4 separate regions of the Homo sapiens genome follow, and all the other regions are linked to region 2. The links come from fine-mapping of genetic effects on plasma protein levels. A gene starts in region 2. Each other region holds a variant in brackets. All regions are shown on one strand. Distances are from middle to middle.

Region 1 (7,437 bases), 21 kb after region 2:
ATTTGGCTAATTGTGAAGCCAATTTGCTTGGAGGACTAGCAGTATAATATGGTGCTTAAGGGCACAGATGAGGGTCTCTGTTTTGCTATGCACTAACTATGACCTTGGACTAGTGATTTAACCTCTCTCTGCCTCTGTTTTCTGTCACATTGGATAGTAATAGTTTCTACCTTGTTAATTTGTCAAGGATTTAAATAAACTCAGTATCTGGCACATAATTAATGCTCAGTAATTGTTGTGGTAGTTGATGTAGTTAAGGTTTGGCAAAGGGAAATCAGTTCTGGAACCCTGGCCTTTTGATTTTCAACAATGGTATCCATTGAAATAAAATAAAGTGAGAATTTGGAAAGCTGTCAAAGAGGGTGATTTTATTTTATTTATTTATTTATTTATTTTTATTTTTGAGACAGTGTCTCACTGTGTTGCCAAGGCTGGAGTGCAGTGGCGCAATCTCAGCTCACTGCATCCTCCACCTCTTGGGTTCAAATGATTCTCCAGCCTCAGCCTCTCGAGTAGCTGGGATTACAGGCACATGCCACCATGCCCAGCTAATTTTTATATTAAAGAGGGTGATTTTCTATCATATCCCTTTTCTCTCCTAGAAAATATAATTTGACATCATGCCCAAGAAATATGAAATATGTACTTAGTTGCATTTGTTACCAAGGCAAGTCCCTCAAATGCTCAGGACTCCTTTGTGATTCTTTGTGCTGGTGTTTGAGTTGGCAGGAATACAGCCCTAGGGTCTTCTGGGCCTGGAGGTGACATGTATACCTTTCTAGCTCCCTCTAAGATCCAAAAGCTCTCCAACATCTGTAACTATAGAGACAGCTACATTTTGCTTTGGATATAGGCTGAGACTTTTTCAGTCTCCAGGTCCCCATTTGAGTCCCACACATATTACAGATGTTTCCTGTAGCATTTTATATATTGGATGTAGACCTTTTACAAAAGACAGAATTTCTTGGTGTGTTATGGTAGAGCAAGTGTGGGACTCTGATAGAACTGAGTTCAGGCCCGGCGCGGTAGCTCACGCCTGTAATCTCAGCACTTTGGGAGGCCGAGGCGGGCAGATCAGGAGGTCAGGAGCTCGAGACCATCCTGGCTAACACGGTGAAACTCCGTCTCTACTAAAAAAAAAAAAAATACAAAAAATTAGCCGGGCATGGTGGCGGATGCCTGTAGTCCCAGCTGCTCGGGAGGCTGAAGCAGGAGAATGGCGTGAACCCGGGAGGCGGAGCTTGCAAAGTGAGCCGAGATCGCGCCACTGCACTCTGGGCTGGGAGCCACAGCGAGACTCCGTCTCAAAAAAAAAAAAAAAAAAAAAAAAAAAGAACTGAGTTCAAACTCCTGCTCTGCTACGCACATATGCTATAACCTGCAGGAAAGGATTTAAATGTGCAGAGCTTCAGTTTCCTCATCTAAAAGTAGAGATACTTCCGCTCACTTCCCAAGCTTGAGTGAAGACACCAGGGATGGCAGTGCCCAGGGCAATGATGCTGCCCATTGAGGGTGCTCAATTAATGCATCTGCTTCTATAAAACCCAGGTTCATCCTTAAAAGAAATAAGCTTCTATACATCTATCTAGGTGGTGAAATTTTATTCTCCAGTCAGAGGAGTGGGAATTAGAAAGATCTTGGTGTTACTGAAAGAGTTTAAATTCCAACTCAGCCATTTCTTAGGCATGTCACTTTATCTGTCTCTCTCTCTCTCTCTTTCTCTCTCTCTTTCTTTGCCTTATTCTGTAACCCAGGCTGGAGTTGCAGTGGTGTGATCTTGACTCACTGCAACCTCAACCGCTGCAGGCTCAGTATATCCTCCCACCTAAGCTTCTCAGGTAGCTGGGACTATAGGCATACGCCACCACACCCGACTAATTTTTTTTTGTATTTTTTTGTAGAGACAGGGTTTTGCCATGTTGCCCAGGCTGGTCTCAAACTCCTGGGCTCAAGCAATCCACCTGCCCCAGCCTGCTAAAGTGTTGGGATTACAGGCATGAGCCACCGAGCCTGGCTAGCCATGTCTCTTTTAAAAAGTTACTTAATCCATCCCTACTTCAATTCTCTTACCTGTAAAATGCGGAAATTAATATTTGTTTAGCATTTACTGTTTAGTAGGGACTGTTATTACTGCTACTGAAATGTAATAGTATTGTCTTTTTTTTTTTTTCATTTCTTTCTTTCTTTTTTTTTTTTTTCAAGATATGGTCTTACTCTTTTACCCAGGCTAGAGTGCAATGGCACGATCATAGTTCATTGCAGCCTCAAACTCCTGGGCTCAAGCAATCCTCCTGCCTTGGCTTCCCAAAGTGCTAGGGTTACAGGCCTTACAGCCACTGTGCTCAGCCTAATTTTTTTTAATTTTTAATTTATTTTATTTTATTATTATTATTTTTTAAGATGAAGTCTCGCTTTGTCAACCAGGCTGGAGTGCAGTGGCATGATCTCAGCTCACTGCATCCTCCGCCTCCTGGTTCAAGTGATTCTCCTGTCTCAGCCTCCTGAGTAGCTGGGATTATAGGTCCCCACCACGACACCTGGCTTTATTTATTTATTTATTTATTTTTAGTAGAGATGGGATTTCACCATGTTGGCCAGGCTGGTCTAGAACTCCTACCCTCAAGTGATCCACCCACCTTGGTCTCCCAAAGTGCTGGGATTACAAGCGTGAGCCACTGCACCCCTGGCTGATTTTTTGTAGAGACAGGATATTGCTTTGTTTCCCAGTCTGGTCACAAACTCCTGGGCTCAAGCAATCCTCCTACCTCGATTTCCCAAACTGCTGAGGTTACAGGTGTTAGCTGCTGCACATGGCCTGCCTACTTTCTTTTATTGGCCACATTTTCTGGGAAATCTGGCACACCTGGACTCTGGCATCTAGTGGGAATGAATGTTAGCAGATGTTAGGGGGAGCGATAGTGAGCAAAGTAGAAGAGGGTTCAGAGAGGATATTTGAAGGCCTCCAAAACAAATTGACCTCTTTTTTTTCTTCTTTTTTTTTAATATGGAGCCTTGCTCTGTCACCCAGGCTGGAGTGCAGTGGTGCAATCTCAGCTCACTGCAACCTTCACCTCCTGGGTTCAAGCGATTCTCCTGCCTCAACCTCCTGAGGAGCTGGGATTACAGGTCCCCACCACCATACCCGGCTAATTTTTCAGATTTTTAGTAGAGATGGGGTTTTACCCCATGTTGGCCAGGCTGGTTTCGAACTCCTGACCTCAAGTGATCCGCCCGCCTTGGCCTCCCAAAGTGCTGGGATTACAGGCATGAGCCACACTGCACCCAGCCTGACTCCATTCTTGTGCTTACAGCTTTTAAATCTTGGGGATTTTGGACTGTCTTGGCAAATCCTAAGTATCATCTTCATTCTTCCTTGATGTTTGTGAGTATGAGATCCCTGCCCAAAACTATGCTGGCCCCCCTGGGGATTGGAGTTTGGAAACTGACTTCACTCAGCCCCAGAGTCAAGGTCAGAAGCCCCTCTACCTGGATATTTTAAGTGCCTGCATTCTCTCTGGCCCAGAAACCAGGACGTGGACCACGCCAGAAGTGACCA[GC/G]CCCCCACCATCCCCAAGAACATTCCACACATCATCGGCAGCCATTGGAAACCAGCTATATGTCTTTGGGGGCGGAGAGAGAGGTGCCCAGCCCGTGCAGGACACGAAGCTGCATGTGTTTGACGCAAGTATGGACTGGTGGGCACCTTGGGGCTGGTCAGGGCCATCCCAGTTTACACATTACCTAATATAGGAAGCAGAAGTTAGAAAAGGAAAGCCTGACTAAGTGTCTCACTTCTAGACTTCTTTGTTATATCTCTTAGCTGATATCTTTTTCCCACAGCAAAATTGGCATTTAAAAAGGGATAGTGAGGCCTGGCATGGTGGCTCACACCTGTAATCCCAGAGCTTTGGAAGGCTGAGGCAGGTGGACCGCTTAAGGTCAGGAGTTCGAGAACAGCCTGGCCAACATACCTTTTCTCTACTAAAAACACAAAAATTATCCGGGCATGATGGTATGCACCTGTAATCCCAGTTACTCAGGAGGCTGAGGCAGGAGAATCGCTTAAACCCAGGAGGAGGAAGTTTCAGTGAGCCAAGATTGGGCCACTGCACTCAGCCTGGGCAACAGAGCAATACTCCATCTCAAATAAATAAATAAATAAATAAATAAATAAATAAATAAATAAAACTAAAAAGGTAGGCCGGGAACGGTGGCTCACGTCTGTGATCCCAGCACTTTGTGACGCCCAGGTGGGAGGATCACCTGAGGTCAGGAGTTTGAAACCAGCCTGGCCATCATGGCAAAACCCCATCTCTACTAAAAATACAAAAATTGGCCGGGTGCAGCGGTGGGTGCCTGTAATCCCAGCTACTCGGGAGGCTGAGGCAGGAGAATCACTTGAACCCGGGAGGCGGAGGTGGCAATGAACCAAGATCGTGCCATTGCACTCCAGCCTTGGCAACAGAGCGAGACTCTCTCAAAAACTAAATAAAAAAATAAAAAGGTATAATGATCAAGTTAAAAAGTTTAAACCATACAATTTATAAAGTAAAAAAGTAAAAGAAAGAATAAGAAAGACAAAAAACAAACAGAAGTAAAAGATTCCCCTTCAGCCTTTCCTTTCCCCGCCTCAGGTACATGCCTGGGTGATTTTTTTTCTTTTTCTTTTTTTTTTTTTGAGATGGAGTCTCGCTCTGTTGCCCAGGCTGGAGTGCAGTTGCCCGATCTCGGCTCACTGCAACCTCCGCCTCCCGGGTTCAAGCGATTCTCCTGCCTCGGCCTCCCAACTAGCTGGGATTACCAGCATGCACCAACATGTCCATCTAATTTTTTGCGTTTTTAGTAGAGACAGGGTTTCACCATGTTGGCCAGGCTGGTCTTGAAGCCTGACCTCAGGTAATCTGCCCACTTCAGCCTCCCAAAGTGCTGGGATTACAGGCTTGAGCCACTGCACCCGGCCAGATTTTTGTATTTTTATTGTAGAGATGCAGTTTTGCCATGTTGCCCAGGCTGGTCTCAAACTCATGAGCTCAAGCAATCTGCCTGCCTCTGCCTGCCCACCTCTGCCACCACACTCAGCCAAAATTTTTACCTTGCAAAGTAAAATTGGGAAAATTAAGAGATAGCACATTCCCAAGCCAGAGTATTTGGGAAAAAAAAAAAAAAAGACACATCACAGTGTGACTTTTCTCTTTCCAGAAAGAATGGGCTTTGTGATTCTTTTAAAGCAGTTTTAAAAGTTTAAATAATATTGGTTTTGAATATATAAAACTATAAGGAACAAGAAAAAAAACATATGTATGTGTATATGTGTGTGTGTGTGTACATGTGTATGTACTATCACCCCAAAATTAAATTACTGTTAACATCTCAGTGTATTATCAATCTTTTTTTTTTAAGAACAGAGATAATTCAAACCAGATGTGGTGGCTCACGCCTGTAATGCCAGGACTTTGGGAGGCTGAGGAGGGCAGATTACTTGAGGTCAGGAGTTCAAGAGCAGCCTGACCAACATAGTGAAACCTCGTTGCTACTAAAAATACAAAAAATTAACTGGGCGTGGTGACGCACACCTGTAATCCCAGCTACTTGGGAGGCTGAGGCATGAGAATCACTTGAACCCCGGAGGCGGAGGTTGCAATGAGCCGAGATCTTGCCACTGCACTCCAGCCTGGGTGAGGGAGCAAGACTCTGTATCAAAAAAAAAAAAAAAAAAAAAAAAGGACAGAGATAATTCTATATGTTACATTTGCATCCTATATTTTTCACTTAAGCATTGTTCCATGCAATCAGAAAGTCTTCACCAGCATTTTGAAATGATGATTATTATATAAATATTAGAGTCAGGGTCTCACTGCATTGCCAAGGCTGGTCTCAAACTCCTAGCCTCAAGTGATCCTTCAGCTTTGGTCCCTCAAAGTGCTGGGATTACAGGCATTGAGCCACACCACCCGGCCTTCACCATCATTTTTAATAAGTGCTTAGGCCAGGCGCGGTGGCTCACGCCTGTAATCCCAGCACTTTGGGAGGCAGAGGCGGGTGGATCATGAGGTCAGGAGTTCGAGACCAGCCTGGCCAAGATGGTGAAACCCTGTCTCTACTAAAAATACAAAAATCAGCCAGGAATGGTGGCGGGCGCCTATAATCCCAGCTACTCAGGAGGCTGAGGCAGCAGAATTGCTTGAACCCAGGAGGCAGAGGTGGGTGGATTACCTGAGGTCAGGTAATCCTGGGCAACATGGTGAAACCCTGTCTCTACTAAAAATACAAAAAATTAGCTGGACGTGGTGGCAGGTGCCTGCCTGCCACCCTCTGCTGCAATCCCAGCTACTAGGGAGGCTGAGGCAGGAGAATCCCTTGAACCTGGGAGGTGGAGGTAGCAGTGAGCTAAGATCACGCCACTGCACTCTAGCCTGGGTGACAGAGCAAGGCTCTGTCTCAAAAAAATAAATAAATTTTTTAAAAAGTGTGTAATATTTCCTCATGGCTATACTAATAATTAAACCTGCTCATGGACACTTAGGCTATTTCCAATTTTTGTCTATTATAAACAATACTGTAATGAACAAGCCAGGTATGCTGACTCATGCCTATAATCCCATCGGCTCAGGAGGCTGGAGGACCGCTTGGGCCCAGGAGTTTGAGGATGTAGTGAGCCATAATTGCACCACTGCACTCCAGCCTTTGCAGTAGAGCGAGACCCTGACTCTAAAAAAAAAAAAAAAAAAAAAATGCTATAAGGAACATATTTATGCAGAAACCATTTCAGGTAATTTTAAATTAAATTCCTTGGGACACTGGGGACTCCTTGAACAACCAGCAGGCATACCATAAACAGTAATTCAAAGACAAATTGTTTGGCAGACCTTTGTTTCAAAGAGTTTTTGCAGGCTGGGCGCAGTGGCTCATGCCCGTAATCCTTTGGGAGGCCACTTTGGGACACCAAAGCAGGTGGATCCCTTGAGGTCAGGAGTTCAAAACTAGCCTTGACAACATGATGAAACCCTGTTTCAACTGAAAATACAAAAAATTATCCAGGCATGGCGGCAGGTGCCTATAATCCCAGCTACTCGGGAGGCTGAGGCAGGAGAATCGCTTCTCCTGGAGGAGGCAGAGGTTGCAGTGAGCCAAGATCGCACCACTGCACTCCAGCCTGGGCAACAGAGCAACACTCTATCTCAAAAAACAAAAACAAAACAAAAAAAAAAAACAACAGAGTTTTTGCAGTACTCCTTTAAGACTTTTCTGGTATATAGAAATGATTAATTTTCCAGAATTCTATATATGTACAGCTTTGAAGATAAGAAGGGTTGCCTGTAGTAAAACGTAATAATCATCATATTCATAACTCTCATGTATTGGGTACTTTTTTTTCCTTCATGCTTTATGTATATTATCTCATTTAATTCATACCTCAGCTCTTAAAAGTAGGTATTG
Region 2 (7,437 bases):
AATAGGTGGCAGTCCTCACATGACCACACTATCTGACAGGAGGAAGCTCCCTCCTGCAGACCCACCTCATTGAGTGAACATCATTCTTCACATCCACAGCAGAGAGAAAAGAAGAAAGCGTGCGTCAGAGTGTTGGGCAAGCTTTTAGGAGAGGTGTTAGACACTTCCAGTGGTTTGGTATGGAGATGGGGTAACAGAGCTTGATGACTGGAATGCATTCTTAGTCTTCCTTGCAAGAAATAAGAGATCTGGGTTCCTGGGTTCCTGGTTCTGCCATTTTATGTGGGGTAGTTATTTTAACTTCTCTGGGCCTTGATTTCCATTTTTAAAAATACATCTCTTGCCAGGCACAGTGGCTCACACCTGTAATCCCAGCACTTTTGGAGGCAGAGGTGGGTGAATCATTTGAGGTCAGGAATTCAAGACCAACCTGGCCAACATGGTGAAACCCTGTCTCTACGAAAAATACAAAAATTAGCCAGGCATGGTGGTGCGCACCTGTAGTCCCAGGTACTCAGGAGGCTGAGGCAAGAGAATTGCTTGAACCTGGGAGGCGGAGGTTGCAGTAACCTGAGATCATGACACTGCACTCCAGGCTGGGCGACAGAACAAGATTCCATCTCAAAATAAGTAAATAAATAAAAATAGAAATAGAAAATACATCTCAGGCAGCCTGGCGCAGTGGCTCACGCCTGTAATCCCAGAACTTTGGGAGACCGAGGTGGGTGGATCACGAGGTCAGGAGTTCAAGACCAGCCTGGCCAAGATGGTGAAACCCCGTCTCTACTAAAAATGCAAAAAAAAAATTAGCTGGGTGTGGTGGCGGGTACCTGTAATCCCAGCTACTTGGGAGGATGATGCAGAGAATTGCTTGAACCCGGGAGGCGGATGTTGCAGTGAGCCGAGATCATGCCACTGCACTCCCCCAGCTTGGGCGACAGAGCAAGACTGTCTCAAAAAAAAAAAAAGAAAATAGATCTCAGGCATTCCACATTCTCAAATGTGATTTCTAGTCTAAAAGCATAGGTTCAGCAGGCACGGTGGCTCATGCCTGTAATGCCAGCACTTTGGGTGGCCAAGGCAGGTGGATCATCTGAGGCTAGGAGTTCAAGACCAGCCTGGCCAACATGGTGAAATGCCGTCTCTACTAAAAGTACAAAAATTAACCATACGTGGTGGCCACGCCTATAATCCCAGCTACTTGGGAGGCTGAGGCAGGACAATTGCTTGAACCCAGGAGGCGGAGGTTGCAGTGAACTGAGGGCGCCACTGCATTCCATCCTGGGCGACAAATCGAGACTCCGTCTGTAAATAAATAAATAAATAGGTCCCGCAGTGAAAACTGGCTGCTATTTTGCCCACAAACCTCTTCCAATTTTTCTTGTTGATGTGCCACTCCAGCATGGCACCTTGAAACAGAGCTAGCCAGAAAACACCGGGGACATCAGAGCATTCTGCAGCTGTGAGCAGAAATGTACGTGGAGATGCACATGGACATATGGCAGAGCTAACCTGGACTTGGTTTTCTTTCCTGAAGGAGAGCAGAATGACTGAATATCCCTAAACTTCTCTTTGGCAGACAGTCAATGGGGATTTTTCCACTAAAGTGGGAACTCACAAAGACTCCATATGTTTGAAAGAGCCGCAGACCTTGAATTCCATTTTGTCAATAAATTTTGGTTATGGTTTCAAGTAGCTAAAATATTCCTTTCACCAACCTGGCCTTTCACCTGTATTAGCACATCCTCTGAACAGTTCTGTCTGCACAGCAGGTAATACTATCATCATTCTATAGATGAGGAACTAGGGTTCAGAGTGGGTAACTTGCCAAATGTCAGAGTTAGATGGTTAGTGCTGGACCCTGGATTTTTTTTTTTTGACAGAGTCTTGCTCTGTTGCCCCGGCTGGAGTGCAGTGGCACGATCTCGGCTCACTGCAACCTCCACCTCCTGGGTTCAAGTGATTCTTCTGCCTCAGCCTCCTGAGTAGCTGGGATTACAGGCAAACGCCTGGCTGATTTTTTTTTAGACAGAGTCTTGCTCTGTTGCCCAAGCTGGAGTGCAGTGGCATGATCTTGGCTCACCACAACCTCTGCCTCCCGATTCAAGCAATTCTCCTGCCTCAGCCTCCCGAGTAGCTGGGACTATAGGTGCGCATCACCGTGCCTGGCTAATTTTTGTATTTTTAGTAGAGATGGGGTTTCACTATGTTGGCCAGGCTGGTCTTGAACTCCTGACCTCGTGATCTGCCCTCCTTGGCCTCCCATAGTGCTGGGATTACAGGCATGAGCCACCACACCCAGCCTGGAGCTTGGATTTTAACCCAAGTATGTTTGATCTCTTCCCACTAAGCTACCATAGCTCTATACTCCAGGAGCTCCTGTTTCTAACCTGAGCTGTTTTCTCTATTTTCTAGGACACAGCGACAGTTTCAGAGACTGGAGTTCTTTGAAACAGACATAAGAGAGCAAGCCACCTCTCTATTTTCAGGAAAGACACAGAGAACCTATGGTTATGAACTAAAACAAAGATAATGTAGATTCTGAATATGTCTAGAGACATTGTTCATTTATAGTCAGGAATAGCTTTACCCTTGACAGAGAACTCTGTGCCAGCTGCTGGGTGCTGAGCACTTTTATTTACATTATGTCATGTATTCCCCACCACAACTACTACATACATCTCTCTTTTTTTTTTTTTTTTCTTGAGACGGAGTCTGGCTCTGTCACCCAGGCTGGAGTGCAGTGGCACTATCTCGGCTCACTGCAACCTCCGCCTCCCAGATTCAAGCAATTTTCCTGCCTCAGCCTCCTGAGTAGCAGGGATTACAGGCGCCCACCACCACGCCTAGCTAATTTTTGTGTTTTTAGTTGGGGGGGGGGGCGGGGGCGTTCACCATGTAGGCCAGGCTGGTCTCGAACTCCTGACCTCGTGATCCGCCCGCCTCGGCCTCCCAAAGTGCTGGACTTATAGGCGTGAGCCACCGCGCCCAGCCTATGATAGAAATCTTATTAGCTCCATGGTTACAAACAGACAACCCTGAGGCCTGGAGGAAAGTAACTTCAGAACAGATACTCTCCTGGCTGAACTTTATATTTATTGCACTCTTGGCAGTCGTCCCTAGTTGTCTTTTTCTTTGATCTCTCTCTAGTTAAGACTTGCTCCTGGAGGCAAAGCGTGGTGGTGTCTGGCTCAGCATAGCACCTGCCATAATTACAAATGGCAATTATGGAATGAATCAGCTGTTTAAAGCACCAAATCTTGAGCTGGCCCGAAGACTGCGCAGGAGGATTGCATGCTCAACTCTCCCCTTTAGAAACTGTTAACAATCGTTGTGGCCGGGCGCGGTGGCTCACGCCTGTAATCCCAGCACTTTGGGAGGCCGAGGCGGGTGGATCATGAGGTCAGGAGATCGAGACCATCCTGGCTAACAAGGTGAAACCCCGTCTCTACTAAAAATACAAAAAAAATTAGCCGGGCGCGGTGGCGGGCGCCTGTAGTCCCAGCTACTCGGGAGGCTGAGGCAGGAGAATGGCGTGAACCCGGGAAGCGGAGCTTGCAGTGAGCCGAGATTGCGCCACTGCAGTCCGCAGTCCCGCCTGGGCGACAGAGCGAGACTCCGTCTCAAAAAAAAAAAAAAAAAACAATCGTTGTAACTGGAAATGTAACTGTTATACCCTCCCCCCCTTTTATTTATTTATTTTTTTGAGAGGGAGTTTTTGCGCTGTTGCCCAAGCTGGAGTGTGGTGGCGCCCAGCCCTGTTAGCCCCTTACAGAGTAGATCAGCTGCCGCAGGCATCTGAGTTCCCCAAACGGACGCCCGAACCCGGCATTGCGCAAATCGTTTCCAAGTAGCCCCGGCTTATTTATCCCGTCCGGGAGGGAGGGACCCAGGGAAGGCCCACCCCACTTGGTTCCCGAGAAATGCAGAGCCTGGCGTCCACTCCCGGTCTGGGGGACCCCTCCACCGCCAGCCCAGGAAGTCAGCGCCGGGCCCTCGGGGCGGAGCAGGGAAGAGGGAGCGGTTGGCCCGGACGCTCTTCCGGGTCCTGGGAGGAGGGCCCGGACCTAAGCCCCGCCCCTCCGGGGTGGAGTCACGGCTCGCGACTGGCCTAAGTCGCCGCAGGTATTGCAGTCCGGGGCTGGAGGGTAGGGGCGAGGGTCCCCGGATACCGGGTCTATCACGGTCTCGGGCAGGGAGTCTGAATCTTTTAGGGGAGTGGGCCCAAGCCGGGTGCAAAGAACGGGGAAGGGCCTTCCCTGGCTCCGTCCCGGCCACTTTGACCGAATCAGCCTGTTCTTTCCCGACCCCGTCTCCTATCCCCTAGAACTGCCACGTGGGGATGAGATTTGCTGGGCTGGTAGCGGCGGCTGCTGCGGGAGGTCCCGCCCACGTGAAGCCAGCCTAACTGAGCTCTGGACTTTGGGGACAGCTGTCAGTGGCCTAGGCCGCAGGTGAGATTTATCCATTCATCTCTCAATCTATTTTCTTTCTTCATTCACTAGCCACTCCCCCACTTCTACTCCATGCCAGGTCCATTGGTAGGTTCTCGGAATGGATCTGACAGGCCCAGCCCTCTAGGAACTTAGTCTAGTGGAATTTAATCTAGAATCTAGTCTAGAAGCCTTAAATAGATAAACATTCCAAATGATTCCTGCAATGGTGATGGCTAATACCTTCAGAGCCCAGTGGGTGGAAGAAGGAAGTAACTTGGATGTGGGTGGAAGAGAAAAGGGCAAATCAGGGAAGGTTTCACCAGGGAAGGGACTTTTGAACTGGGCTTTGAAGGTTAACTAGGAGTTTGCAAATTTCCCAGAAGGGAAGCGACATTCCAAATAGGGGAAGCAGAACAGGCTGCAAAATTATGAAAAGGCCTGCCATATTACAAGAACAGCAAAAAAACCAATAATGCAAGAGATTGTGGAGGTGAGTTCACGGGAAAAAAGCTCAACAGCAGAAGGCCTTACTTTCTATGCTATGTTGAGGCCAAGATTTATCCCAGAGCTCAGTATTTCTCAGCTTCTTTAAATATTTTGTCCTTTGAGCGGAGAGCAGTGGCTCACACCTGTAATCCCAGCTTTTTAGGAGGCTGAGGTGGAAGAATTGCCTGAGGCTAGGAGTTCGAGACCAGCCTGGACAACAAAGCGAAACCTCCATTTCTATTTTTTTTTCTTTTTTTGAGGAGGAGTCTTGCTCTGTCGCCAGGCTGGAGTGCAAGTGGCGCAATTTCGGCTCACTGCAACCTCCGCCTCTTGGGTTCAAGCAATTCTCACGCCTCAGCCTCCTGAGTAGCTGGGACTACAGGCGTGGGCCACAACGCCCAGCTAATTTTTTTTGTATTTTTAGTAAAGACAGGGTTTCACCATGTTGGCCAGGATGGTATCGATCTGACCTCATGATCCGCCTGCCTCGGCCTCCCAAAGTGCTGGGATTACAGGCGTGAGCCACTGCTCCCAGCCCCGTTTCTATTTTTAATTAAAAAATAAATAAATGGCCGGGCTCAGTGGCTCACGCCTGTAATCCCAGCACTTTGGGAGGCCGAGGCGAGCCAAGTTCAAGACCAGCCTGGCGAACATAGTGAAACCCCATCCCTACGAAAAATACAAAAAAAATTAGCCAGGTGTGGTGGCACTTGCCTGTAGTCCCAGCTTACTCTGGAGGCTGAGGCAGGAGAATAGCTTGAACCCGGGAGGCAGAGGTTGCAGTGAGCTGAGATCCTGCCACTGCACTCCAGCCTGGGTGACAGAGTGAGACTCCATCTCAGAAAAAATAAAAATAAAAAATAAAGCCAGGCACGGTGGCTCATGCCTGTAATCCCAGCACTTTGGGAGGCTGAGGCGGGCAAATCACCTGAGGTCAGGAGTTAGTGACCAGCCTGGCCAGTGTGGTAAAACCCCGTCTCTACTAGAAAAGCTAGAAAAATGAGCTGGGCGTGGGTGGGCACCTGTAATCTCAGCTACTCAGGAGGCTGAGAAAGGAGAATCATTTAAACCTGGGAGGGGAAGGTTGCAGTGAGTGGAGATTGCACCACTGCACTCCAACCTGTGCAACAGAGTGAGACTCTATCTAAAAATAATAATAAAGATAAATACATAGGCCAGGCACGGTGGCTCACACCTGTAATCCCAGCACTTTGGGAGGCTGAGGCGGGTGGATCAGCTGAGGTCAGGAGTTCGAGACCAGCCTGACCAACATGGTGAAACTCCATCTCTACTAAAAATAGAAAAATTAGCTGGGCGTAGTGGCACATGCCTGTAATCCAAGCTACTCGGGAGGCTGAGGGAGGAGAATCGTTTGAACCTGGGAGGCAGAGGTTGCCATGAGCTGAGATCTTGCCATTGCACTCCAGCCTGGGCAACGAGAGCTAAACTCCATCTCAAATAAATAAATAAATAAATAAATAATAAAAATAAAGATGAAAAGTTGGTGATTCTTATTCAAATCAATCAGGCCTAGAAATTAGTACATTCAACAGGAAAGGTTTAAAAAGGAGGTTGAATTGATTAAGATGATAATCATAAGTGTCTAAAAAGTGCCTTTCTTTCTTATGCATAGGACACCATGAAGCAACTGCCAGTCTTGGAACCTGGAGACAAGCCCAGGAAAGCAACATGGTCTGTAAGGAAGGATCCAGACACAGAAAAGCATGAGTTTTTGTTTCATTTATAAGTAGTTTATTTACATATTTGATCATCAACAAAAAGGGGTAGAGATGAAACTGTCTGCAGTTTCTGGTAATTAGACTCAAACTGTCTGAGAAAGTCTTCAGAGGAAAGATAGGGGGGCAGTAATTATCACAGAGCAGATGTTAATTTTATTAAAATCCATTTACCAGAAAGAGTAAGGCACTGACCATCTGGCATCCTCAGCTCCAATGCTGTGTCTTCCCCCGAGCTCTGACTCATTTTTAAGATTTTTAGGAAATTAGATTTGGATTAAACTGGCTTCACTGTTTCTTGGCTGTTTGTTCAAACAACCCTTTATTCAACAACTAACATTGGCCTGATGGGGGCAGCTGCTCTGTGGGTGCTGGAGGTAGAATTGTAAATAGTCTCTGTGTACTGGGGACTACAGACTAAGCAGGTGATGGTGATAAAATGTGATCTGCTCTGAGTCAGGGCCCACAGAAGGTTGTAGAGAGGTGGCAGTTCTTCAACAGGACCTTGAAGGAGAGACTCCAGACTGGCTTCCATGCATCTGTCTTGCTCTGTACCCAGAATACAGCCAATCATGGCATTTCCTAGTTTAAAACCCTTTTGTGCCTCCCTGTTGGTGTTGGGATAAAAATCAGACTCCTGGGCTGGGCACGGTGGCTCATGCCTGTAATCCCAGCACTTTGGGAGGCCAAGGCGGGTGGATCTCCTGAGGTCAGGAGTTTGAGACCAGCCTGACCAATATGGTGAAACCCCATCTCTACTAAAAATACAAAAATTAGCT
Region 3 (7,437 bases), 310 kb before region 2:
CCTGACCTCAGGTGGTCCACCCACCTTGGCCTCCCAAAGTGCTGGGATTACAGGCATGAGCCACCGCACCCGGCCTTTTTTGTTTTCTTTAAGAGACAGCATCTCACTATGTTGCCCAGGCTGGATTCAGTCTTTGAACTCCTGGGCTCAAGCAATTCTCCCACTTCAACCTCCCGAGTAGCTGGGACTACAGCTGTGCGCCACCACGCCTGGCTAATTTTCTTTGATGTTTAAATAGTATTATGAGCCTTACATTTATTACACATTCCATACACATTCCATTATTCACTAGACAGGCTGAGACATTTTCTCAACTAAAAACTTCATAATATAGGGAAAAAAAATTTTTTTTTTTTTGAGACGGAGTCTTACCCTGTCCCTGAGGCTGGAGTGCAGTGGCACGATCTCGGCTCTCTGCAACCTCTGCCTCCTGGGTTCAAGCAATTCTCCCACCTCAGTCTCCTGAGTAGCTGGGATTACAGGTGTGTGCCACCACGCCCAGCTAATTTTTGTCATTTTAGTAGAGACAGGATTTCACCATGTTGGCCAGGCTGGTCTCGAACTCCTGGCCTCAGGTGATCTGCCCGCCTTGGCCTCCCAAAGTGATGAAATTACAGGCATGAGCCACCACGCCCGGTTTTAAATAAAAATTTATTCAAAGTCTCTGAATGGTAATATATCAAAATGCATTCTTCCATGTACCCCCAGTCCACATCCCCATTCTTGCACAGCGTGGCTGGAATTGTAAATACATTTTTCATGTATCAGAGTCATCACTGCCTCCTCCAGCTTTCCTAATTGTAATGTCTAATGTGACAGGAACTCCCGGGGATGCCCTTGTCTTACTGCGTGGCTGGGCTTCCACTTTAAACAAAGCTGGGATAAGCTTTGTTTCCCCAAGCGAGGAATCCCCATTGTTTCTCTTGGGGATAGAATGACTGAGTCAGAAGACCACAGTTTCTAACTTCTCCACTGTGAGGCATCTTAAGTGACCTCCAACACACCCAATTTTGTAAAATGGCACCTTGTGGCTTTGATTTCTATTCTCTTGGCTGACCATGAGGCTGGACACTGCCCCAAAAGTACATTGGCTACTTTATCTTACGTTATTTTGGTTTCCTGGATTTTCCTCACTCAGTAATTCATCTAATAGTTACTGAGTCCCTGCACTGTTCTAGGGGCTGGAGAAACGGCAACAAAAAAGTCAAAAGTTCACCCTCGAGGGGAAAAGAATCAATAAACAGGCCAGGTGTGGTGGCTCACACCTGTAATCCCAGCACTTTGGGAGCCAAGGCAGGCGGATCACAAGGTCAGGTGTTCCAGACCAGCCTGGCCAACATGGCAAAACCCCGTCTCTACTAAAAATACAAAAAAAGCCAGGCACAGTGGCTCACGCCTGTAATCCCAGCACTTTGGGAGGCCGAGGCGGGCAGATCACGAGGTCAAGAGATCGAGACCATCCTGGCCAACATGGTGAAACCCCATCTCTACTAAAAATACAAAAATTAGCTGGGCGTGGTAGCGCGCCTGTAGTCCCAGCTACTTGGGAGGCTGAGGCAGGAGGAGAATTGTTTGAACCCGGGAGGCGGAGGTTGCAGTGAGCTGAGATCGCGCCACTGCACTCCAGCCTGGCGACAGAGACTCCATCTCAAAAAAAAAAAAATTAGCCAGGCGTGATCGTGGGCACCTGTAATCACAGCTACTCGGGAGGTTGAGGCAACAGAATCGCTTGCACCGAGGAGGCAGAGGTCGCAGTGAGCCAAGATCACGCCATTGCACTCCAGTCTGGGTGACAGGGGGAGACTCTGTCTCAAAAAAAAAAAAAAAAAGAAATCAATAATCAAATCCGCAGTGTATCAGAGGGTATGAAGAGGCATGGAGAAGAGGCAGCATGGTGAGGGAGGGTGGGGTTCTGGTGGTGAGGCTGGTCAGGGTGGCATAAAGAAAGTGAGGATGACCAGGGAAAGGCACTTCCAAACGGAAGGCTCAGCAAGTGCCAAGGCCCTGAGGTTGGAGGGTACTTGATGGGAGTGAGGCCCCTGTGGCTGAGAGGGAGTGACGAGGACAGGAGGGGCTCAGCTGGCAGGGGTAATGAGGGGCCACACCACACAGGGCTTTGCGGGCCTCTGCAAGGACTCAGGCTTTCATAAGAGATCAACAGAGACAGGCTTTCATCAGAGGGCTAAGACAAGAGTGCCAGGGAAACCAGTTAGAAGTCTGATACCATCTTCCAGAGAAGAGACAATGGTAACCTGAAGCAGGTGGCAGCGATGTGAAGTGGTGGATTCTGGGAAATGTGTGAAGGGGGTGCTGAAGGAATCTGCTAACAGCCTGGATGCTGGTAGAGAAAGAACCAAGGCAGATAGGACAACTCCAAGGCTTTTGCCGTCTACTGAGATGGGAAAGGTGGCATGGCAGCCAGGGAACACAGTGAAGCCGAAGTGTGTTTTCCGATGTTTTGAGTTTCAGACACCTTAGAGCTCATGTGGAGACAGGTTTGTGAGGCTAGTGTCCGTGGAGCTGTCTGGGCGGGAGGTAGGGAGGGGAGTCAGCTGCGCAGGGCATGGCTGAGATCGCAGAGGAGGGCGCACAGTGCAGAGAAGAGCTGTGAGGGCTGCCCTTGTGCACGGCGGGTGGCAGTGGGAAGGAGACTGGCCTGTCAGAGGAGACGGAGAAGGAGCAGGCCATGGATGGGAGCTTCAGGAGGAGGAAGAGACGCCTGTCCAAGGCTGCCAACAGGCCAATCAGAGGGAAAATTAGGAACTGCCTTCTGGATTTAGCAGTGCAGATGTTACTGATGAGCTTGACAAGAGTGTTTTTCTGTGGAGTGGTGGAGGAAAGGTTGAGAGAGAAGAGGAGTGGGAATGGAGATGGCAGATATAGGAAGTTTTAACATGTCAGCACGGCAGGTGAGCAGAGACGCA[G/A]CAGCAGGGCAAAGGGGTGCAAGCCGAGGGCTTTCATAAGGTGCCTGCACAACGGCGCACCTCTCAGTAGATGGGACGATTCCAAGAAAAAACGACCTAGGCAAGAAGGGGGAGGCGGCTGGCGTAGTGCTTGGGGAGGTGGGGGAACAGGATATGAGGAGAGGCTGTGGCACGTCCCTTCTCAGAGAAGCAGGAGGTGGGAGCACCAGGGTGGGTGAGGCAGGGTTGAGGTGAAGAGAGGAGAGAAGGTAGACATGAAGTTGGGGTTAGGGGCAGAGGGGCGTGAAGGCCCACGGATGAGGTGGGGTTGCGGGGAACACTGGGCTGCCCGCAGGACCATGGTCCTGAGCTTCGAGGGGACCTGAATGCCCAGGTGATGGCACTCTCCAGCCAGGTCTGCCTCCATGGCTGCAGGCAGGGAGCAGGGAAGAGTTGGGTTTAGCCCAAGTTTAACCAGAGCTTGGCTAGGACAGTCTGAGGAAAGGGAGAGAGGCCAGAGGACCGCAGGTGTCGGGAAGGCAGTGATCCCGTGACAGACACAGACCCGACGCTGAACAAGGAGGCAGGAAGGCAGCACAGCTGGTAAGGCCAGAGGCTCAAGGGACGGAGGTCCTAGGGGACAAACGGGAAATTTGCAAACAGGCAAAACGAAACTGTGGGGTTGAGCAATGCGAGCTGAGGTGACACTAGGGAAAAAAGCAAGGCAGTCATTGCCAGAAGGGCTGGGATCGGAGTGACTGACAGGGCTGGGAGGGGCTCAGGGGGCTGGGCTTCTGGGATGCTGGCAATATCCTGATTCGCATCGGGGTGGTTACATGGGTCTGCTTTCTGTTAATTCACTGAGACACACATTTGTTTTGTACACTTTCCTGTGTGTATTTTTTTTTTCAATTAGCAATAATCGCGCCTCGGATAGACCTCATTGGCTACGATACTGCCACTGCTGCAAAGCTTCTGTATTTTATATTAGACATAATGAACACTTTCCCCCTTGTAAAAGATCTAAACACACACACACACGTGCACTCACACACACAAACACACACACAATTTGGGGGCAGAATGTCAGGCCAGAGCAATAGCCGGCTGGCACACTAAGCTTCACAGGACACTTTAAGAACCAGGATTAAATGAGATCCTGCATTTATATAGGTGGAAAGGCTGGAGGGTGAAGGGTGGGGACCATGACATTTATTGAGCCTCTACCAAATACCAGAGAGTTTATAAAGTTTATAGGACGGTTCACAAATACCTTCATTTCATAACCCCCTCCTCCCACCCAAACAAACCCTTAAAGGCAGCTATCAGTGCTTTACTTCCACAGCTGTAGAAAGGAAGTATAGACGAAAGAGGACTGTCGCTATGGCCTGGCTGGGGACAGCAGAGCTGGCAGGGAACATGCAGGCTTGCAGCTGCCCAAGCCTGACACTTGTCCAGTTCTCCAGGGGGTGGGGAGAAGAGGGCTGGGGAGGGTGTGGAGGAGGACAGTGCAGGAGGAACGGAAGATCAGGAGGAAGGCCTTTGGGTGAGAGGGGTCATGGTTGCCAGGAGGTGCGGGGGAAACCACAAAAACCTCCAAGGATGGACTGGGTCATTTTAGGCCTGAGGGTGAGGACCTGGTGGAGACAGAAACAGCCATGCAAAAGGCATCCTCACCTTATTTTTCTCCAGAAGTTGCTGCTCCAAGTCCTGTTTCTCCTTCTGTAGCTGTGTGAGATCCATGGCCCCAACCTCACCATTTGGTGTTCTTCCTGCAGTTGGAAGCTGGAACACAGGGTCCTGCATGGCCCTCGAGGTCACCTACAAGGTGGCAGCAGCAAATTGAGAGCCAGGACAGGTCAGGTGAAGCTGAGCCACAGGTACACAGGGAAGGGGAGCTAGACTCGTCCCTTAGGTATGGGCGTTGTGCTCCAACAGGCAACTGGCCAGGAAGCAATTCCTGGAGAAGATCCAATGCCCAATGCCCACAACTAATCACACGACTAGTCTTTGCTGGGATGAAGGGGCTTGCTCTCCCCTGCCTACCGACAGGGGTGCCATCTGTGATGGGCTCTTCAGGACTCATGGCCTCCTAGCCATATGAGTGCCCTACTTTATTTATTTATCTATTTATTTATTTATTGAGACGGAGTCTTGCTCTGTCACCCAGGCTGGAGTGCAGTGGCGCAATCTCGGCTCCACCAAGCTCCGCCTCCCGGGTTCACATCATTCTCCTGCCTCAGCCTCCCGAGTAGCTGGGACTACAGGCACTCGCCACCACGCCTAGCTAATTTTTTGTATTTTTAGTAGAGACTGGGTTTCACCGTGTTAGCCAGGATGGTCTCGATCTCCTGAACTCGTGATCCACCCGCCTCGGCCTCCCAAAGTGCTGGGATTACAGGCGTGAGCCACTGCGCCTGGCCAAGTGCCCTACTTCAAAGAAAGGACCCTACATGCAGGGGAGCGTCGTGTCCACCATGTGTCCCCACTGCTGCCTCCTTAGGGGCACTCTCGGCACCTGCCCTGCATCTTGCTGTAGCACCCATGCAGGTGCAGCTGGGACTTACGTGCGACTCATTGACTGAGAGTGCTTCGGCCTGCAATGGGCCCCGCAGCCTCAGCAGGTCCTCCTGCTCCGCGACCACTGCAGCCTCCTCCGCCTTGAGGGTCCTCAGGGCCTCCAGCTCGGCCTGCAGCTGGTGTATCTGCAGCAGGGCAGAGTTGTGACCTAGGTCGGGGAGGAGGGGAGGGGGCACTGTGAGCCCAGTGACTCCATGCTGCTTGGTGGCAAGGCCGTCACAAGGCAGGATGCTGGGCCTGAAAAGGAGAGAAGGCTCAGCCAGGGACCGACTCCTCACCTCGCTCCAGCTGGAGAATCTCCTGCTCTTTCTGGAGAAGCACTTCGGTTTTTTCCCGCAGATTCTGTTCCTTCTCGTCTATTATGGCTGTCAGGTTAGCTGCCTTGGAGAGAAAAATCAACAAGAGGGAAGGTTGTGAGCAGTGACTCCATCTTCCCACAGAAATCTCCACTTCCCCGCTCTCCAGGGTACACCACGAATCCCTCCCTGAAGTCCACGACCCAGAGCAAACCCCCAGCTAAGCTCTGCTCCTATGAACATGCACAAATCTATTCTCCTTGGTAGGGGCCCTGCACAGGGGCAGTCGCCTCCCACTGCCCCCTGGCCAACAGTGGGTCAACCAGAGACGTGGCCATTCTGCCCAGCCCAACAAGCTGTCATAACTTCCATTTCCTGAGTGCCTGCAACATCCCCAGCACTAGACACGCATTTGATATATGTTGCCTCATTACAGAATAGTTTCCCAGAGGTGTAAGTAGAAGGCTAGAGTCCTCATCAGAGGAGACTCAGATTTGTTAAGGACTTACCAAAGGCCTAAAGCCACTTAACTAGAAGCTCTGGGGTCAGATGCAAAGTCTACCTTCAAGGGAGGCTTTCCCATACTTCCTGCAAAAACTCAACCCAACCTTACGTGGCCTCTGGGGCAGGTGGGCAATGATAGGTCACCTCACAGAATTAGAGCCCACTAGGCCCGTGGACATGGACCACTTTCCAGGTAATTATAGTTGAAAAATCAGAAAAGGGCATCCTATGGGGTAAGAGTTTCTTTATAACATTTGTCTCCCAGCTTCCTAGAGAGCACAGGGGCCCACGCAGCTGACTGCATTCCCTGAGTCCTGAGTCTACTACCCTACCCTGGAGAGACAGGCCCTCTCCAACAGTCTCACGGCAGGATGGGCCTGCTGCCTGTGGGACTGCAGGGGGACATCGCCCCTCAGCGTGAAACAGGGCCCACCTGTTGCTGGAACTCTTCCCTTTGCTTCCGCACCTCCTCCAGGGCTTGAGCCATGGCCACGCTCACAATTTCTCTTTGGCTCCATTCTTCCTACAATGCAGAAAACCACTGAGCCCCAAAACTTAGTTCACAGTTTTTTAGCTGTATGCCACGCAAGAAGCCCAGCAGACAGGGCATGGCTTTGCAGAGCCAGACCAACATGCTCCCCACTTCCCAGGCTCCCAGCCTGGCCCCTCCCTGCCATGCCCTCAGTATCCCTCTCAGAGCTATCCTGGCAGGCAACCCACCGACTTCTCTGGAAATGGCACACCACTGAGGATCGATTGCCCCACGAGCACCCCCGCCAGGACCCACACCAAGGCTAGGGGCCTATCCTGAAGAGCTGGTCTAAGGACAGTAGCCAAGAACAAGAAGTCAGACTCGCAGGCCACGTGAATGGAGTGGGGGACTGGAACAATTGGTTATGGAAAGAAGAAGAAGTAATGACCAGGGACGGTGGCTCACACCAATAATCCCAGCACTTCAGGAGGCTGAGGTGGGAGGATCGCTTGAACCCAGGAGTTCAAGGCCATCCTGGGTAACACAGTGAGGATCTGTCTCTATAAACAATAAGAAAAATTAGCCGAGCATGGTGTCACATGCCTGTAGTGCCAGCTACTCAGGAGGCCGAGGCGAGAGGATTGCTTGTGTCCGGGAGGTCAAGGCTGCAGGAAAATGGATT
Region 4 (6,959 bases), 33 kb after region 2:
CCTCTGGACAGAATACTAATAATAAAAAATCATAGCACTAAATAATCTCCTGAGTGCTTACTATGGACCCAGCCATTTATTGTCTCTTAACCTTCCAACAGTGCTCTCCTTTCATTACAACCCATTATGCTTTGTGTTGGCCTACTGGATTTCTTTCTGGTGTTAGCCATTAACCCATGAAGGATCTGGATAATGTGGATGTAGATGACTAGAGTTTCATGCTTTTCATGTTAAATGGTTGAAAACAGTGGGAAGAGGAAGGTTAGAGAGAACATGAGAAATATCCTTTAAGTATCTGAAGGGCTGATATGCTGTGGAGAGACCCTGGACTCATTCTGGGCAATTCCTTCAAGCTGTGAGGTCCATTATGGTAGGGAACTTGTCTATTTTGTTCTCCAGTACATTTCTAGCACTTAGCACAGTGTCTGGCAGATAGTGGGTGACAGGTACTTTCTTTTTTTTGAGATAGTGTCTCACTTGGTTGCCCAGGCTGGAATGCACTGATGCGATCTTAGCTCATGGCAGCCTCTGCCTCTCAGGTCAAGTGATTCTCCTGCCTCAGCCTCCCGGGTAGCTGGGACAACAGGCACGTGCTACAACACCCAGATAATTTTTTTATTTTCTGTAGAGATGAGGTTTCACCATGTTGCCCAGGCTGGTCTCCAACTCCAGGACTCAAGGGATCCACCCGCCTTGGCCTCTCAAAGTGCTGGGATTATAGGCGTGAACCACTGCTCCCGGCTCATACCTGTTATTGAGTGGAGGGATGAAGAAATGAACATGTTCTGCATTGCTCCAGACTACAAGAACTGGAACAATGGGCAGAAGGCATGGGAAGTCCTGTGTAGTGTATCGGGCTGACTTCCCAAGCCCTGAATTATCTGGCTCCATGACAGCTGAGGCCAGGGGACACTGGCTTTGTATTCTTGCATTGGCTAGAATTTTGGCCACACCGGGTGATTCTCCCTTCTTACTCTGAGATGCTGGGCCCCTGCCTTGCATTGACAGATGGAAACTATTTTTTTTTTTTTTTGAGATGGAGTCTCGCTCTGTTGCCCAGGCTGGAGTGCAGTGGTGCAATCTTGGCTCACTGCAAGCTCTGCCTCCCGGGTTCATGCCATTCTCCTGCCTCAGCCTCCTGAGTAGTTGGGACTACAGGTGTCCACCACCACGCCCGGCTAATTTTTTGTATTTTTAGTAGAGACAGGGTTTCACCGTGTTAGCCAGGATGGTCTCAATCTCCTGACCTTGTGATCCGCCCACCTCGGCCTCCCAAAGTGCTGGGATTACAGGTGTGAGCCACTGCGCCCGGCCGACAGATGGAAACTATTTACACAAAACCATTCCTTGCGGGCAGTCAGATGGGGTCTTAATGCTTATTTTTAAAAAGAGCCTTTTTCTGGTGTTAGGAACTACTTGTTGACTATTTTTCCTGCCTACCCAAGTAGTTCTCTAAATCTAAAATCCAGTGATAGCTTGCCTTATTTAAATGCTTGTTTTGGCTGGGAGCAGTGGCTCACCCCTGTAATCCCAGCACTTTGGGAGGCCGAGGTGGACGGATCACCTGAGGTCAGGAGTTTGAGACTAGCCTGGCCAACATGGTGAAACCCTGTCTCTACTAAAAATGCAAAAATTAGCCGGGTGTGGCGGCACGTGCCAGCTACTCTGGAGGCTGAGGCAGGAGCATCGCTTGAATCCGGGAGGTGGAGGTTGCAGTGAGCTGAGATCGCGCCACTGCACTCCAGCCTGGGTAACAGAGTGAGACTCTGTCTCAAAAGAAAAAAAAATGCTTGTTTGAAAAGATGCAAGTTTCCCTGCAAAAATAGGTGGGAAGTAGGCGCTAAGGCAGCACATTATCGTGTAGAGATTTTGGAGACACAGGCTTTGGAGCCACACCTAAGTGCAGTCTTGCTGTGCCACTTACAAGCTATAGGGTCTCGGACAAGTCTCTTTCCTTCTCTATTCTTGTTTGCTCATTTGTAAGAAGAAAGGGGAGGCCAGGCACCAGGCCATGGCTCCCGCCTGTAATCCCAGCACTCTGGGAGGCCGAGGTGGGTGGATCACGAGGTCAGGAGTTCAAGACCAGCCTGGCCAAGATGGTGAAACACCGTCTCTACTAAAAATACAAAAAATTAGCCAGACCCGGTGGCAGGTGCCTGTAATCCCAGCTACTCGGGAGGCTGAGGCAGAGAATTGCTTGAACCTGGGAGTCAAGATCAAGCCACTGCACTCCAGGCTGGGCAACAGAGCGGAAAAAAAAAGAATAAGAAAGGGGATAGGCAGAAGTAATAGAAATTTCATAGGGCTGTTATGAAAATTAAGTGAGCAAAATTTGTTGTTTAGCCAGCACTTACAAAATCGCTAAGGAACTGTATTTTTTTTTTTTTTTTTTTTTTGAGACGGAGCTTCGCTCTTGTTGCCCAGGCTGGAGTGCAATGGTGTGATCTCAGCTCAGCGCAACCTCCGCCTCCCAGGTTCAAGCGATTCTCATGCCTCAGCCTCCTGAGTAGCTGGGATTACAGGCATGCACCACCATGCCTGGCTAATTTTGTATTTTTAGTAGAGACGGGGTTTCTCCATGTTGGTCAGGCTGGTCTCGAACTCCCGACCTCAGGTGATCCGCCCGCCTCGGCCTCCCAAAGTGCTGGGATTACAGGCGTGAGCCACCGTGCCCGGCCCAGGAACTGTATTTAAAGTACACACACACACACACACACACACACACAGAGACAGAGAGAGAGAGAGAGAGAAACTGAGCTAATTCGAGGCAGTTAATAGTGAATGGTTGAAGGTGACTGTTATTATAAAGGTTGTATCACATTTCTGTGTGATCCAAAGACTGCCTACATCAGAATCGCCTGAGATTCTGGGAATCACTGAGCCCCTCCCTGCCTTCCTCCCTGGACTACCCAATCATAATGTCAGAGTTCCCCAAATAATTCTTATGTGCACTAAACCTCTCAGAGCTCTTGGTGAATGACTTTCAGTGATTGGTGTGCAAACTACAGTAGATAGATAAGTTTGAAAGCACATCTTAGCCCATGCTGCGCCAAAGCTCTTTCTTTCTCTTGGCAGGTGACATGAAATGGCAGAAGCTAAATCCCACTGGGGCTGCTCCAGCAGGCTGTGCTGCCCACTCAGCTGTGGCCATGGGAAAACATGTGTACATCTTTGGTGGAATGACTCCTGCAGGAGCACTGGACACAATGTACCAGTATCACACAGGTGAGCAGGTGTCCATGGGGGATCTTTAAACAAATCTAAACATTCTTTGAAACGTGATGCGGTGGCTCACGCCTGTAATCCCAGCACTTTGGGAGGCCGAGGCAGGCAGATCACGAGGTCAGGAGATCGAGACCATCCTGACCAACATGGTGAAACCCCATCTCTACTAAAATACAAAAAATTAGCCAGGCGTGGTGGCGGGCGCCTGTAGTCCCAGCTACTCGGGAGGCTGAGGCAGGGGAATTGCTTGAACCCAGGAGGCAGAGAGGTTGCAGTGAGCTGAGATCACACCACTGCACTCCAGCCTGGTGACAGAGCGAGACTCTGTCTCAAAAAAAAAAAAAAAAGAAAGAAAGAAAAAAGTGATGCAGTGCTTCCAATTTGGTTCCTCTATATCTAAATCCAAAAGAATGAAAACTCTGTAGGGGATGACATCAGGAAAGCAGCAATGCTGCCATAAGGTTTTTTTCCTTTTACTCCTGTTTGTTAGGACTCGGCTGCTACAGTAAATCACTGAGCATTTCTAGAAATTTCATTACTTTTTAAATTTTATTCAGATTTTGGCTTTCACTATCTGGAAATTGTTTTTTTTTTTTTTTTTTTTTTTGTCTGAGATGGAGTCTCACTCTGTCGCCCAGGCTGTAGTGCGGTGACGTGATCTTGGCTCACTGCAAGTTCCACCTCCTGGGTTCACGCCATTCTCCTGCCTCAGCCTCCCGAGTAGCTGGGACTACAGGTGCCCGCCACCATGCCCAGCTAATTTTTTTTTTGTATTTTTGGTAGAGACGGGGTTTCACCGTGTTAGCCAGGATGGTCTCCATCTCCTGACCTCGTGATCCACCCGCTTCGGCCTCCCAAAGTGCTGGGATTACAGGCGTGAGCCACCGTGCCCGGCCTATCTGGAAATTTCTTAACATGAAGCCTTTTCCCTCCCCAACATAGAAGAGCAGCATTGGACCTTGCTTAAATT[T/G]GATACTCTTCTACCCCCTGGACGATTGGACCATTCCATGTGTATCATTCCATGGCCAGTGACGTGTGCTTCTGAGAAAGAAGATTCCAACTCTCTCACTCTGAACCATGAAGCTGAGAAAGAGGATTCAGCTGACAAAGTAATGAGCCACAGTGGTGACTCACATGAGGAAAGCCAGACTGCTACACTGCTCTGTTTGGTGTTTGGTGGGATGAATACAGAAGGGGAAATCTATGACGATTGTATTGTGACTGTAGTGGACTAATAAAACCCACATTTTTATTACCTGTCAGTTACTTTCAGAATAGTTAAGTAAAACATTAGCTGTTTTATACCTCCAAAATATCTTCTGCATTATATATCTGTTTTTCTCCTACTTTGGTAGGTGAAGAAACTAATGCAAATAATTCTTATGTGCACTAAACCTTGCTATATTGCCTCTCAGAGCTCTTGGGAATGACTTTCAGTGACTGGTTTGCAAACTGTGGTAGATAGATAAGTTTTGCCCAATGCAAAAACCTCCACTGCATTAACATAAAAGGCTTTGGGCCAGGCTTGGTGGCTCACGCCTGTAATCCCAACACTTTGGGAGGCTGAGGAGGTGGATCACCTGAGGTCGGGAGTTCAAAACCAGCCTTACTACCATGAAGAAACTCCGTCTCTACTAAAAACACAAAATTAGCCGGGTGTGCTGGCCCATGCCTGTAATCCCAGATACTCAGGAGGCTGAGACAGGAGAATCGCTTGAACCCGGGAGGCGGAGGTTGCGGTGAGCTGAGATCACACCATTGCACTCCAGCCTGGGTGACAAGAACGAAACTCTGTCTCAAAAAAAAAAAAAATATATATATATATACATATATACACACATATATATGTATACATATATAGTATATTTATATGTATACATATATATGTATACATATTTATATATACATGTATTTATATATGTATACATAAACACATATATATGTATACATATATATATATATAAAAGGTTTTGCCAACAATACAAACCTAGGTAGGTGTGATTTGTGTATTAAATGCTAATCACAAAGTTGCAATATGGTTAGGGTTAAAAAAGAAGTTGCAGAATTATAATTGGTAAACAACAAACTATAGACATCAGACACATAGTTGAAGTCTATCTTTTTAATATTCAGTAACAGCTCCTCAGAAAGAGTTACAGACTAGGTGGTCCACGGTAGTGAGAGCCTTTGAGGTAAGGGAAGACTAGCCCTAGTTGCTAACTACCATTTAACCCTATTGCCCCAGGGTACACAGCACTGTAGGTCATCTTTAATGGCTGTATTGGGCTTGGCCTGAGACCAGTATTCTGCTCAGGGTCTGCCCAAATGCTTTTCGGGCAGTGCAGCTGAGGCCTAGGTCTAATTAAGAGTTTGGTGTTGGGATCCAGTTCTACTAGCCCTAGAGAATTAACCTTTCAGCCAGTTGCCCATCTATAAAATACCTATCCTTGGGCAGTATTGGATTCTTTTTTTTTTTTTTGAGGTGGAGTCTCACTCTTGTCGCCAGGCTGGAGTGCCGGGCTGGAGTACAGTGGTGTGATCTCGGCTCACTGCAACCTCTGCCTCCCGGGTTCGAGTGATTCTCCTGCCTCAGCCTTCAGCTTGCACTACCACGCCCAGCTAATTTTTGTATTTTCAGTAGAGATGGAGTTTCACCATGTTGGCAAAGATGGTCTCTATCTCTTGACCTTGTGATCCACCCGCCTTGGCCTCCCAAAGTGCTAGGATTACAATATTGGATTTTATGTTAGCACCAGCCTGTCCTTTATTGATCATACCATTTACCTGGACTCTTTTCTTCAGGAACACAATCTAAGTAATCCTAAACCAGTTTTGACACAAACCATTGCCTTTAACAACCCATTCATAGTGAGGGGATTTAGTGTAGTTTCAATGTCACCATCCAAGATCCCACCCCAGTACCACTAATGAGAAATTTCAGGGATGGAGATTCTGACACAGCTAGGGTTCACAATATACCTTTACATCCTAAAGTTACAAATGAAATCCAAGTGTATAAAGTTAATACCAGTGATCACTCACTCCCCATCATTTCTCAGAGAATCCAAGCAGCTATAAAAGCATCATTAGTAATAATTTTAAAAAAAGCCACCAGAAAGGCAGTTTTAGAAAGATAAGGGGAAATAGGAAACCAAGTATGTTCAAGAAAACCCCACTCTTGGGCACTGTGAAATGCCCCTTGCCTGAGTAAAGATGTGGATTAACTTCTCTCCCCTTTTCTTAGATTAATGCAAAAGCCGAGCATGGTGGTAACAAGCCTGTGGTCTCAATTAGCTGGGAGACTGAGGTGGAAGGATCACTTGGGCCCAGGAGGGTTAAAAAAAAAAAAAAAAATCCCTGGAAGCATTAAATAGAAGTGTTTCCTTATCCCAACATACCAAATACTCCCTCCCCTCACCCCACACACGAGTATCTAGTCTTAAATTTCCTAAAATAAGTAATTGATCTAATTAGAAGCTTCTCACAAACATTAGACCAGTGTAAATAACAAACATTTATTGGTGTCACTTATGGTAGAAAAAACTTCCTACACCAGATGCACATGACCCAGTTGTTAAATAGAACATTTTGAAGGTGAACACACACCCTAACCCAGGTTTTTTACCCGCTTTTTAAGATGGCCAATTCTTCTTCTCCCCCCCACCCAAAGACATGTGAGCAACTGCTAATGAAAAGCAGTAAACAGCCGCTTAGGCTATAGCAGTTTCAACTCC

Alleles and levels. Positions count from the first base shown, and alleles are read on the strand shown. Strength reflects both the effect of a copy and how common the allele is.
As copies of GC replace G in region 1, the plasma level of the protein whose gene starts at base 4,090 in region 2 goes up (moderate association).
For the plasma level of the protein whose gene starts at base 4,090 in region 2, allele G in region 3 goes with a higher level than allele A (weak association).
For the plasma level of the protein whose gene starts at base 4,090 in region 2, G is the low allele of the variant in region 4 and T is the other (weak association).

Evidence for each region. PIP is the posterior inclusion probability: the model's chance that the variant is causal. Protein levels are from antibody-based Olink assays in UK Biobank. Linkage for the fine-mapping came from a reference panel and not from the study's own genotypes, which makes the PIPs less certain.
Region 1: its variant is fine-mapped to the plasma level of the RABEPK protein (UK Biobank, PIP above 0.99). The variant lies in the coding sequence of RABEPK. If it changes the protein, the assay may bind it differently, which can mimic a change of level.
Region 3: its variant is fine-mapped to the plasma level of the RABEPK protein (UK Biobank, PIP above 0.99).
Region 4: its variant is fine-mapped to the plasma level of the RABEPK protein (UK Biobank, PIP 0.90). The variant lies in the coding sequence of RABEPK. If it changes the protein, the assay may bind it differently, which can mimic a change of level.

What each region holds. Positions count from the first base shown.
Region 1 is chr9:125,217,016-125,224,452 of GRCh38, forward strand. RABEPK (Rab9 effector protein with kelch motifs) reads left to right here. Exons shown (of 8, transcript NM_005833.4): 5 at 3,524-3,685. Among named protein-coding and RNA genes, the nearest start is that of RABEPK, 20 kb to the left of the region's middle. The variant GC/G (reference allele first, on the strand shown) is at 3,557.
Region 2 is chr9:125,196,453-125,203,889 of GRCh38, forward strand. It overlaps RABEPK (Rab9 effector protein with kelch motifs), which reads left to right and starts at 4,090. Exons shown (of 8, transcript NM_005833.4): 1 at 4,090-4,454; 2 at 6,556-6,614. The coding sequence starts at 6,562. LOC105376271 (a long non-coding RNA gene) reads right to left here and starts at 3,944. Exons shown (of 2, transcript NR_135145.1): 1 at 3,774-3,944; 2 at 3,081-3,203. RefSeq lists a silencer at 3,968-4,017.
Region 3 is chr9:124,883,673-124,891,109 of GRCh38, forward strand. It overlaps GOLGA1 (golgin A1), which reads right to left. Exons shown (of 23, transcript NM_002077.4): 16 at 6,717-6,806; 17 at 5,762-5,864; 18 at 5,471-5,631; 19 at 4,581-4,724. It also overlaps the pseudogene RNU4-82P. Among named protein-coding and RNA genes, the nearest start is that of ARPC5L, 25 kb to the left of the region's middle. RefSeq lists a silencer at 451-592. The variant G/A (reference allele first, on the strand shown) is at 2,925.
Region 4 is chr9:125,229,521-125,236,479 of GRCh38, forward strand. RABEPK (Rab9 effector protein with kelch motifs) reads left to right here. Exons shown (of 8, transcript NM_005833.4): 7 at 3,076-3,225; 8 at 4,168-4,641. The coding sequence ends at 4,460. It overlaps HSPA5 (heat shock protein family A (Hsp70) member 5), which reads right to left. Exons shown (of 8, transcript NM_005347.5): 8 at 5,333-6,959. Among named protein-coding and RNA genes, the nearest start is that of HSPA5, 8.3 kb to the right of the region's middle. The variant T/G (reference allele first, on the strand shown) is at 4,196.